Regions from separate parts of the Homo sapiens genome. Here regions 1 and 3 are each linked to region 2. The links come from fine-mapping of genetic effects on gene expression. A gene starts in region 2. Each other region holds a variant in brackets. All regions are shown on one strand. Distances are between the middles of the regions.

Region 1 (4,253 bases), 150 kb after region 2:
TCAGCTCCTTGATACTATCTGGGAGGCCTGATGGTTGGTTTCCTGAGAAGGGAACTCAAATAAGACAACTGTAATTTTCCCAAATTTTAAGACTGGGAGGGTCAATTTCTATATTTATTCAAAAGAAACCACAAACATCATTTCTATGGGACAGTAGTGCTGGTTTCACTTTCTGTTCTAAATTTCTCATACTCTAAATGAGAATAACCAGTAGAAATACATTTAATTCTTATAAATCAAATAGCTTTAATTACTATTTTTCATTAAATTTTTATTAGTTGGTACAATATTTGATTTTGAAAACTGCTTCATGTCAACCACATAAATGAAGTTCTGTGAAACCCCCAAATACACATGGAGAAATTTTAGATACAGGCATATAGAAAGCAGGTCCAAAACCTTTATCAAAACCTACATGAAAGTGGTAAGAACAAGTGGTAAGAATACAAGTCATCTCCCACTGGCTGGGAGTCAAAAAAAAAAGTCTAGATCTCAAGCTGACGCCAAGTAAGAAGAATTGAAACAGATTTTATAGGCTCTATGATGTGACTTCCCAGACTTTCTCTCACAATCACATCCTCTTCCCAACATTACAGTGCCCGTATGTATCCATAACATTTTGGGCAGGAGAGGGAGTCAGCAGGGTCTTTGATGATCATGCAACATTACCTCTTAATATTAAATTTTCTGATATTTGCAAGAAGCCGATGACAAATTATTTGGTTTTCCATGTCAAACCTCCATGATATATTTTACTAGATACAAAGAATCATGCATTCTTCACATTTAAATCAATAACCTTGTTAAGTTGGAGCTCTAGATGGCTCCTGGGCCTAGGGGTAAGTTGTTTGTTTTAAAAGACATATTCTACGATAATTAGGAAGAAAAAGAATAAAGAAAAACATAAATGTTTGCCTATTCAAAAACACCTTGCCTTCAAGGGCTCAGACAATGACTGGGGAAAACTCCAATAATTTTTTTAGTGCACTTTCAATGTTATTTTGTATTGAGTATTTGTCTGACTCTTAGCATTGTAATTCAGTAGCAGACATTTCCATGGTCCTTAAAATCCTGATTCAGAGGGGAATAACCCACTGGGAAAAATGGAGCACTAAGCTGAGTCAGTAGGCAGGAACCAGAGGCAGTAATAAGAACTGTAATAGAAGATCAGATGTCAGAGAGAAGCCTCCAGACACATTAAACCAAAGAATTATACGTAGGTGCTGGTTCCCATAGCACAGCAAAGCTGGGTTCTGGAGATGTTTATTCTTATCACTTCCACAGAAAAAAAACAGGACTTCTTTCATAGACTATATGCTAACTCAGACATTTTGCACCAAGTAGAAAAACAATGGGTCATGAAATACAAACCAAAACACTAATTTCACTAGAACCAGGGGTTGATTCAAGGTACTGTAAGAATTCTCGGAATTTAACACTTTTGATATTTTTTCATTTCAGATGCTGCACAACAAACATGTCATGGTCCGTGTGGGAGGAGGCTGGGAAACTTTTGCAGGGTATTTGTTGAAACACGACCCCTGCCGAATGCTGCAGATCTCCCGTGTGGATGGCAAAACATCCCCTATCCAAAGCAAATCTCCAACTCTAAAGGACATGAATCCAGATAACTACTTGGTGGTCTCTGCCAGTTATAAGGCTAAGAAGGAAATTAAGTGAAACAAATTGGTCATGACAAGGGGACCCTCATAATGGCCTGTATCCACTTCTCCAGTATAGTCAGTTTAGTTCATATGTTCTGAAAACTGTTTTGGAGAAAGATAGACAGAAAAATGTCATCATATTGAAAAATGTTCAAAGAGTAGCACTATTTATTTTTAATGCTTCTGTAGAATATGACCTATTAAAAGAAAATCTAAACTCAAATTTAAATTATCCAAATTTTAGGCAAATTATTATTTCTCAATATGCGAACACAGTATTTAGAACACAATATTAGAAACACAATTCTAACTAAAGATAAATAAGGAGAAAACATTTAGGATTTGCAGATAAGTCAACAGAAAGTGCCTGCTTTACACTCATGAGTAAAAGCACTCCAGACATTTTTATAATTGCAAGATTTTTATGCTTTTTTTTTTTTTTTTTTACAAAATGATGATTAGTGTGATAATGTGCTGCAAAAAATATCCAACAGCACTACACATAAGTACAGAGTATTCACAATAGTAATATGTTACTGGAAAGGCCACTTCCGAAAAGTTTACATTCACTTGGAAGGCTGCCTTAAAGTATATCTCTTATCTATGACCAAATATCTGGGGTACTTTTAGAAGTTTTCAGTA[C/T]ACCCCCTTAGAGAATAGCTTATGAGTTATTTCACACATTCCTGAGCACATGGCTGTGTTTAGAATGATCTAGTGTAATTCATACATGAGCTGACATACGTTGATACTTTGACGAGTAAATTGTACAGTCAAATGTTCATTGATTTCATGTTATTTCAAAGCATTTTCTTATTAAAAATATATCTTTAGTTAATCCTATTTTGCTATGCTTTCTAGTAAAGTAAATTCACTGTAGCTAATGATGTTACAGACTTACGTATACCCTTGTATACCTGGGACAGGGCTGTTTTATACCAATAAACAGCAAAATATTGTCCTTACTCATTCAAGAATTAAAAGGATAAATTTTAAAAATGTTATCTGTCTCTAAATCAATGCCTCATTCTGAAATCAAGTTAATTTTCAAATGGCAACTTTCTCCAACAGTTATAAGAAGAATCAAATTAGGGCTCCCTGGCACTTCTTCACTTTGGGAGATGAGTGATGGTGGTGTTAGTTTTCCTTAGCAGAGAGTTCAGGTTTTATTATAAGTGCTGCTCTCAGTATAAAAAGGATAGAAAATTAATTTTTCATGTATTCATTTTTCAACATCAACAAAAGAATCCACCTTTCTTGCTCCAAAAAGTCAGGAAGGAAGAATATTTGTCACATGACAAATTTAGTCAAAATATACATAATGTGTTAATTGAGAAGTTCTTAAATAACATGCATGGCATAATTTTGTAGTGCTGGAAGTGATGATAATCATTTGGGGGAGAGAAAGTCAGTGAAACCTAAAAAAAATAAATCGATTAAAAAAAAAACCCTGAGATGTTGTATGAGATAGTCACCTTGGTGCAGTGAATAATTCTAATATATTTTAAAATATAATGTTGAGTGATAAAGATTAAGATCTTTAAATTACCTAATACTGACACTGAGTTTCTTTGTATAGTTAATGACAATATTTCCATCAACATTTTCTCCTGTGCCTAAATTTGTTCCATAAGCGTATTTATATCCTTAATAATATAATTCCACTGCCTGTCTCTAAAACAAAAATTAAAGATAATAGTCAACTTCATTAAAGAAGTGTAGCTTAACAAAAGTAATATTAACCTCTTTATCTTTTGCATTAGTAGTTATCTATTGCTGCATTAAATTGCCACAAACTTGGTAGCTGAATAAGCATGTTTATTATCTCACATTTCTGCAGTCATTCAACATGGTTTCAATAGGCTAAAATCAGAGTGTCACCAAGGCTGTTTTCCTTCCTGAAGAGTCTAGGGGAGCATCCATTTCCTTTCCTTTTCCATCTTCTAGAGGCCACCTGCATTCCTAAGCTCCATGATTTCCTTCCTCCATCTTCAAAATCAGCAATGTAGCATCTCTATGACCCGTCTTCTTTCTTCACATCTCTTTCTCTCATAGGTTGGAAAGGTTTTCTGCTTTTAACAATCACATGATTAGCTTGGATCTACCTGGATAATCTATTTTAAGGTCACTAACTTGAGCACATCTAAAGAATCGACTTTGCCATGTAACAACATATTCACAGCTTCCAGGGATTAGGACATGAACATGTTTGGCAGGGAGGGAAGGATTATGATACCCATACCACATCTAAGATGGTCTTTTAAGTGTCACTGAAAACATGGTCACAACTGGCACTGGAGTCTAGCTGCTAGTCAATCGGCACCAACCAGGGATGTGAAAAAAACTGAGACTATATTCAGCCTCTTACTCCTCAACTCCTTATTGAAGACTGGCCAGGACATAGACCAAGTAGGTTAATGTCACCTTATTCTCAGCTAGATGTAAGATCCAAAGAAGGACAATGGAGAGATGGGTCCAATAGCCAATGAATAAAGGATTAAAAAGTCTAAATAGTCTAGAAATCTGGTTGCAAACAGAGTGGAAACATCTCAAACCAGAAGTTCAAGTAAATAGTAAAAAGGCCACAGTGAG
Region 2 (4,167 bases):
GCTATAGTTGCTTCAGTTGGACTACATTTTCCTAAGGTGAACAGTTTGGGTTGAGTCCACACTAAACTAAGAAAATACTTAGACAAAAGATTATCTTTGACAAATATATCAGTGAGTGATCAGAATATATAAATAGAAATATTGATTTTGAAAAACAAGATAAAAATCAAATGGGAATTTTTACATATGCTAAAAAAATTAAAATAAAAACACTGTATCCGTGTCTCTTCAGAAATCTTTTGTATTACTTCTCTTTTGTCACCAAAAAAAATATTCAGTACAACTCTTAGATGTTAATGAAAGAAAAAACACATTATTTATTTCTTCTCGTATTTTTCTTTTCGCTCTTTCTGAGAGACAGAGGATCTGACATAATGCAAAATTTAAGACAAAAAAAAAAATACCTGGAAGAAATGAGCATGGAGAGGGAGTAATTTTGAATGATTATGCTTTCCCAATTCCTCTGTAAGCCTCCTTTTTTTCCCCAAACTGTATTTAGCATTGTTCCTGAATCAACAAAAACATTGCCTTACTCTTAGCTTTTTATAACACCAATAATGAACAATGTGACAAGAATATTCATATCTGGGGAGAAATAGGATGTAAGATTTTGAAAGTTCAAGGTGCTAAATTTTTTGAACTCATTACATATTTGGATAATTCTTAAATTAGCATTTATTGGCTGATGATGTTTTGATCAGGAAAAATTATCAAGAACATTTGATTTTTTACTAAATTGTATGTGTTCAGACACTCAAAATTCTTTGTTGGGGCTCTAGGAATACTCAGATCTGATCACATTTTAAGAAATTTTATCATTCAGATTCGTTTACTAAAACTCATCAGTAATGAGTTCTGTATGTTTTGTTGTTATTTATGTTTATCCAAGCTGTTATGTTGACCTTTTAAAAATGCTGTTTCTCCTTAAAATTAAGAATAACTATTTTTCCCTTCTTTTAGAAAGCTAAGGAGGAAATGTGGACCTGATAGCTGCAAAAGCAAATTGAACTAAAATAAAAAGTTCGGAGTTCAAGGACTCCAAACTTTTCAATCGGTTTTCTCTTCTTCTTTATTAAATGTATTGCCACTAGAAGCAAATAACTGATGCAGTTTCTGCCAGATAATGGCAATAATAAAGGTGAAATGTGAATATTTTTTAAATTATATCTAAAATCATCCACATCATTTAGCTTGTGGATGTACAGGTAGTTTCTATTTGGGAGTGGGGCTAGGTAACTCATCATTATAAAAATGGTATCCAAGCAAGGATCACAATACCTGTACCACTGCCATTGTAAACATTGGATGGCAATATACATGAAACTGATGAACATGAGAACAAAACAAAATAAAAAGTGTAATACATTTTATTTATGCTCCATGGGAGGTGGTAACCTGTGGGGATCAGCACACTCAGCAAGCGGTCCCCGCGCATTAGAGGTGAATCAGACACTTGAACATCTGTCCACTTCATGGAAGACGTTTCATCTCAGAATACACGTACTAATAAACAACAGTTGGAGACAATTGTCTCTGACATTCAACATAATGCTGAGCTGAGGCTGAAAGAAGGAAGGGTGGAATTGTATTTCCTTTGGTAAAGCAAAAACAGCCGTGAGTACAGCCTCTTCTAAAAATCTGATATTTAAAGAGAATTGTAAGACATCAAAATGTTCAATTTGGAATGAAGAGTGGCCGAAGTTACTGGAAAGCTCGTGCCTCCGTCTGCAAAATCACTGGCCAGGAAAGCAAAAACTTTTCCAACACCCAATTTTAATATTGTGCTAAAGCTATTGACTCTGTTAAACCTCTAGAGTTAAATATGATCCCCTCCCCAGCCCCCACCTTTTCTCTCTTAGGTTAGTGTCTGGGGGACAAGGAGGGGGCTGGAGCTTGGCCCCAACCTCGGAATTGCTGCCAAGGGCTTGTAATACAATCTCTCCCCGTTTGAAGGGTAAATCAGTGTCAACTGCATTTGCGTCCACCAAAAAAAGTAAGCATTTTACTTCCGCTCGGTCTATGAGGACTGATGAAATGTAGGAAATCTGTTTCTGGCAGGGAGAAAAAATCGTTTTCCCAAACAGCACTAAAAGGAGCCATCAGAGAAGTATGAAGAGGGGTAGTGCGGCTGTAGCTGCTGCCGCTGCCGCCAGGCTGGTGGGGTGCGGGGAGCGGCTGCTGCAGGACCTGTGCCTGGAGGGGGCCGGCCCCGAGAAGCTGCAGGAGCCCAGCCCGGAGCCCAAGCGCCTCTGAGAGCCGCCAGCAGCCCAGCTCGGGACGCGGGGGTGAGCACGACTGGCTGGCCCAGTTCTGCGCCAACGCCGCCGCAGCGTGCGCGCACCGCAGCCGGGGCTCACGGGAGCCCCTGCCTGTCTACTGCACCCGGGGCGGCGGGGGAGGGGAGAGGTCATTAAAAAATAACCTCAGGAACGAGGCGGGGAAGAGTGAAGAGCCGCGGACAGTTGGACAGGCTCTTTCTCTAAGAGTGGGTATTCACTGCAGGGGGTGACTTTCTGATTCTCTGGAAACAACCATGTGTTCCTTATCCCTATTGCGGAACACCCCGGACAACCGCAGCACGTAAGCCCGCTGGGGTGGCTCTGCCAACCAGGGACAGAGTGAGGATTTTTAATGAACACATCGATTATAAATGCACACATATGCATTCGTGCACAAGAGTATCTGTAATGCATGCTCAGCATTGTCTGTTATGGTGGGGTGGGATAGAGCCAGAATGGTCTTAAAGGGCTGATCCTGAATGTTTTACTTGAGTCGTTGAGGCCAGGATGGGAGGAAAGAGCGCCACATGTGTGATCTGGGGTGATACTCACTGTGTCTGATGAGTTTGATGAAATTGAGTTTTATGTGAATAAACAAACGCTAGCCGATATATATCAACACACTTTGGGGAGATTTTGCGTGGTATCGTTCTTTTTGTTCAGTCCAAAGTTGAGACTGGAATCTGAAATTGTTTGGGGAACAAAGGAGGCAATTTTGCTTTGGAGACATTATTTATACTGGCAAAATTAAATTCTGTCAACTCAGTATGGTAAATTACCATTAACTTAGCCCAGGTATCCGAAGAAGTTTCCATTGTCTTGAATGAAGAGGGAGCAAAAGCGAGGGTTAACAGATTCTGTTTCTACATTCTAAAAACAATTGAGGTTGGGGGAGGGTTGTTAATTCTTTTCCCAGTTAACCTTTTTGAAATCACAGTCTTTACCCTCTCCATCTTCTTCATCTTCATCCTCTCACCTCCGTGATCTTCTTACAGTGAAGAGTTTGCAAAACTTTATTCTTATAAAATTATCTCCTCCAACCCTCTCCAACAAGGTTAGATCAGTTGTGTATGAGAGATCTTATGCCAAGGAAATAAGATCTGCTTGTGCACAGGAACACCCATTTGACATCCTAGTATTAAAATAAAGGCTTAGACAGTTTGGATGTACCAGCCTGGCAGAGGAAGTCCACTTTTCCTCCCCACGTATCCCCTGAGATTCACAGAGGCAAGGCAGAGAACAAGACCTGTGCTTCTTTACTCCAAACTCTTAGCAGTGTGGACACTGATTAACTGCAGCTGGGGTCTGATTTGCCCAGCCTGTCTTTGATATTGATCAATGAACTCCTTCTCAAGGAATGCTTTCCTCTAACTGCGGTGAAGGTGGTGGCTCTGGTGGTTCTCTCCAACATGGGTGTCTGGGTTTTGACTGCCTAAGAGAAGGTAAGGGACAGATGGATGAGGCATGGGACAGTGTGCCTTTGCAAAGCACATTGGAGACTTTGCACAGGGCTGCCTGAATGGTCCCTTACATGGAAAAGGTAGCTTGGATTTCAGCCTGAATGCTACTGAAGTTTGGGTTTATTTCATTACTTTATTGCTAAACACTATGCTGTGGTGTTATGGACTGTGCTTTACTGGGAAATAAGTTCACATGGCAAAAAAATATTTCACCAGGTGCAAAAGGTCATGTGATTGCCCTGGAATTTTTTAGCATCTTGGTTAGAAACTTCAGTTAAACCTCAAACTTTCGAGTATGGTGAAATACCTGGTCTTATATTAACCCTAAGTATGTTGTGTGTTACTTAGAAATCTTACTTCAAGACTGGAAGTCTGCATTGAAGACTCAGGGAAACTTTGGAAAACTAAGTTACCTTGGTTGAGAAGGC
Region 3 (4,281 bases), 160 kb after region 2:
ACATTTAAATGTAAATTTTTGGGATATCAAAGGCCATTTGCGTTAGAAAATCTAGCTATGGACATCTATGAAGAATAAAGTCCAAACTCAATTATCTAAGTAGGCAAAACTTGATCTTTAATCTTACCTCTTTTTGTCTTCTCTCTGCAGCCTCTGCAAGCTTTGCTCTTTTCTCTTCCTAAATAAATGTGTAAAAATATGTATTAAAATAACAAACATTATTATTAATAAATTATTCACATTTATTTCATAGGCACTATAACAATTTACAAAAATATTCGGTACTGGCCCTAAATGTCCCACAAAGAATGCCACTACTCAACTTTTTGAATTTCATTCTCCTAATCAATATGCCTTCAAATCAGCACATGCTAAAACAGATACAAGGTTTACCTATATAATCATTTATTTACTCTCTTTTTTAATAAAAAGGCCTACAAGCTAGTCAGGGCAATAACAAAACAAATAATGTTTACAAATACAAAAAGGAAAATACATGGTTTGTTACTGCCGGTTAAAATGGAGTCTGAAGTAACCTGGTGTTTTTAGGAAAGGTTAATAAATGAAGTGGGCTAATCTCAGTGTGTAGGAGGGAAGGACTGGAGTAATTTCATGAGAGGTATTGTTCCATATCAGAAAACAGTGAATGCTATTTTTCTAGACCATGTACTACTTATTATAAAGCCCTTTTTCTAGGTGCTGGGATACAACAGTGTAAAAACATAGATAAATGTCTCCTCCCAAATGAAACAAATTCCAATTGCGGGCGCACAGACAAATATAATGAAGTAAGTAAACGTCTGTCAGATGGCATGGCAGATAAGTAATGGGAGAATGGGTGGGTGGTATTGTGGGGAATATATTTTGTTTAACGTGGTCAGCAAAAGCTTCACTGGTAAAGTGACATCCAAGCAGTGAGCCGTGTGGTTATCAAGGGAAGAGGGTATAGTATGAGGATGGGGGGGAGGGCTTAACAAATCTGACATGTTATATTTTATCGACAGCCAGAACAACAAAATCAACTTAATTTAAAACAACAGCAGCAACAAAGAGAAGCTGAACTTTCCCACATCAAATTTATAAGTACTAAATTTTTAGTATCTATAGTAGCTGAAGAGTTAATGTACTTCCCAAAAATACTTCATTTTCTTCAACTAATTTTTAGCTAGAGAAGAGAAACAGGTTTATGTTAACTCCCTGTAAGGAGTACTAATGTAAAGATACTGTTAACAGAAAGCTACAAAAAGTGTACATGTATTGTACCACACACCCACTAGCTACATTTGAATTTCAGATAAGCAATGAGTAATGTTTTTGTAGAACTAGATCCCTAATATTGCATGGCACAAAACGATATTATAAACGTATTCCTTGTATATCTGAAATTCGAATGTAACTGGGTGTCCAGTATTTTTATTAAATACGACATTATAAATTGGACACTCTGTACTACATATTCTTTTAAAGGGAGAACGTAAAAGAATGAGATAAATACTAAAAAGAAATCATTAAAAAAACATATCCGATAAAGCTCAGGCGTATAAGCGACTTTCCGAGCACCTTCTTTTAAAAGATGGTAGACACAGTTGAAAACGCACATCTCCTAGACGACTAAAGAGCTCCCGGAGAAAGCAATGTCTTTTCGCGCCGAATTCCATCTACCACATCCCCCGGAATGTCCCACGCGTAACGCCCTCTGCGTGCGCCGGCGCCCTATGAAGATCCGGCGCAGCTAAAGTCAGTGGAAGGTAGAAAGACGCCACAGCCGCCTTTCGACAACTTTTTGTTACAAAAGTGGAGATCTACACGGAGGCGACGGCCTAGGTCGCTCTGACAGGACCCAACGACCCTCCTGACGCGTCCACCCGTCCTCGCTAGCAGGGTCCCCCAGCGGGCTCTCGACCTGCGCCACCAGGTACAATGGCTCGG[C/T]CCGCCCCGCAACCCGAGGACAGGTGCTCAAGGCGCGGCCCGGCGGACGCAGGGACCTGCTCTACTCACCAGGTCCGGCGTGGGAGGCGCGGACTCCCCGGGACAAGGAAAACACAGCCCCATAGGGACGACAGCTTGAGAACCCTGACCGGGTCCGGCCCAGGCCAGGCGGCGCTAACTGCGCGGTCCGGAGCCGGTCCCTGGTCCTCCGCGCTTGCCCCGCCCCCACCGCCCTCCACTGGCTCGGCTCCGCCCCAGCGGCAACGCCCCGCCCCCACCCCGCAGCTCTGCCCCGCCTCGCCTCTCTGCGGCAACGCCCCCCTCTTCTCGCGACACCAACCAGTCCCACAGCTCAGCTGCGCCCCCTTAAGGCATTGCCCCTTCCTCACCCACAGCTCCGCCTACCCCCGCCCCGCGACCGCTGGGCTTGTGGCCAAAGCCTAGGTTCCAGGAAACACCTGCTGTGGGTAGCAATGCAGGGAAGGGATGGAAAAGCTTCGCTACGGTTCCAAAGCTCTTCCTGCTAACCTTGCCTTACCATTTATAAATGAATGAGTGGTACAGCTCTGGGTAGTTCATGCTACCTTTTTTTATGAGATGGGACTCTGGTGTCCTAGAAATTAAAGCCAAAATTCCAAGTAAACATCAGCACCCTTTTCTCCCTTCTTAGTGACAGTGCTATTCCAGAACAGAGGGCAGAATATAAAATCCATTATTATGACGATGAATCTAGCGTCATAAATGTGGCATTAGTTGACATTTCCACTAGTTTCTGGTATTTAGAAGTCATTTATCCTTCCGAGAGAAATAATAAAGTTTCATCTACTGAGAAATGTTTTAATGATTCTCCTCAAATTTTAATAAGTATGAGAATCAGCTGGGCAACTAGTTAAAATTTACTTGCTGATTTAGTAAGTATAAGGTGGGACCTGAGATTCATTTCCAGTAAACCCACAGGTGATACTAAAGTTACTGATCTCGTCTCCACACAAATGCTTTTATTTTATTTTATTTTATTTTTGCATTCTATTAGTTATTTCTGCTTATGTAAAAATTTTCAAACATTACAAAAAGGTAGGATGTATAGTGACAGCGTCTCAGAAACCATTGTCGGCTTTTTGATATACTTGCTGGTTAATTTTTTATAGATGTATAATTTACATATAATATTATGCACTTATTTTGATTGTAGAGTTCACTGAGTTTTAACAAACATGTGATCACCACATTCAAGATATGTAAGTTTTCCATCACCCAAAAACCTTCTATTGTACCCAATCCCATTCAATACTTTATCCTATACCTAGATCCAGGAAACTATTAATTTGTTTAATATCACTTTAGTCTTTAAGTTTTGCATAAATGTTAATATCACTATAGTCTTTAAGTTTTACATAAATGAAATATACAATATGTTTTGCAAAAGCCATAATATTTTCTAAATTCTTCCATGTTATTGAATGAAACAGTAGTTTATTCCTTAAATAATAGGGGATGATGCTTTTTTAATACTATTATTCGATTGCATGGGCCGTTTCTAAGGGTAAATAAAAATATATAAAGAAAAAGTGAAGGTTCTCTGTTGCAAAAAGAGAAAGATAACTACCCACCTCCTCTTTAGCATTGTGTTTAGAAAACGTGAAATTGTAAGCGCTATCTCTGTCTCACTGAAATGTATGAAAAAAAAAAAAAGGCCAGGCATGGTGGCTTACTCCTGTACTTTTGGAGGCCAAGGTGGGTGGATCACCTGAGGTCAGGAGTTTAAGACCAGCCTGACCAACGTGGGGAAACCCTTTCTCTATTAAAAATACAAAACTTCGCCAGGCATGGTGGTGGGCGCCTGTAATCCCAGCTACTCCGGAGGCTGAGCAGGGAGAATCGTTTGAACCCGGGAGGCGGAGGTTGCAGTGAGCCGAGCTCGCGCCACTGCACTCCAGCCTGCACAACAGAGAGAGATTGCGTCGAAAGAAAAGAAAGAGAGGAGGGGAGGGGAGGGGAGGGGAGGGCAGGGGAGGCTAAATAAGCCTCTTGCCAGTTTTGCATCAGAAAGAAAGAACCTAAATAAGCCTCTTGCCAGTTTTGTATCCTCAGAATATCTTTGGAGGCCTATTGGCTTTCTCTTAGAAATGAAAACATCCCAGAGTGGCACCTGTCTCCCCGTCTTCATGGTAGTTTACTGTCTAGGCACTTGGCTTCAAGATGGAGCTTTCTGCTTGTCAAGAGATACAAGTGTTATTCTTTCCTTTAGATTTCTTTTAGATAAAAACAATTAACATGTGTGTAGTGGACTGTATCTGACAGGCTATATAAAAATGGTGAAGAATGTTTTCATTGCAAACTCTTTAGTAGATT

Alleles and levels. Alleles are on the strand shown, and positions count from the first base shown. SD is a standard deviation of normalised expression in the study named.
In carriers of allele C in region 1, the expression in ovary of the gene that starts at base 1,997 in region 2 tends to be higher than with T alone (small effect, 0.36 SD a copy in GTEx).
For the expression in subcutaneous fat of the gene that starts at base 1,997 in region 2, allele C in region 3 goes with a higher level than allele T (small effect, 0.36 SD a copy in GTEx).

The links. PIP is the estimated chance that this variant, and not a neighbour inherited with it, causes the effect.
Region 1: its variant is fine-mapped to the expression of GAS2 in ovary (GTEx, PIP 0.97).
Region 3: its variant is fine-mapped to the expression of GAS2 in subcutaneous fat (GTEx, PIP above 0.99).

The regions. Positions count from the first base shown.
Region 1 is chr11:22,810,337-22,814,589 of GRCh38, forward strand. GAS2 (growth arrest specific 2) reads left to right here. Exons shown (of 8, transcript NM_001143830.3): 8 at 1,462-2,665. The coding sequence ends at 1,680. Among named protein-coding and RNA genes, the nearest start is that of LINC02718, 17 kb to the right of the region's middle. The variant C/T (reference allele first, on the strand shown) is at 2,307.
Region 2 is chr11:22,664,615-22,668,781 of GRCh38, forward strand. GAS2 (growth arrest specific 2) reads left to right here and starts at 1,997. Exons shown (of 8, transcript NM_001143830.3): 1 at 1,997-2,285. RefSeq lists a silencer at 2,077-2,236.
Region 3 is chr11:22,827,697-22,831,977 of GRCh38, forward strand. It overlaps SVIP (small VCP interacting protein), which reads right to left and starts at 2,105. Exons shown (of 4, transcript NM_148893.3): 1 at 1,999-2,105; 2 at 128-178. The coding sequence starts at 2,052. LINC02718 (long intergenic non-protein coding RNA 2718) reads left to right here and starts at 1,718. Exons shown (of 11, transcript NR_187210.1): 1 at 1,718-1,915. RefSeq lists an enhancer at 1,700-2,009 and a silencer at 2,160-2,229. The variant C/T (reference allele first, on the strand shown) is at 1,930.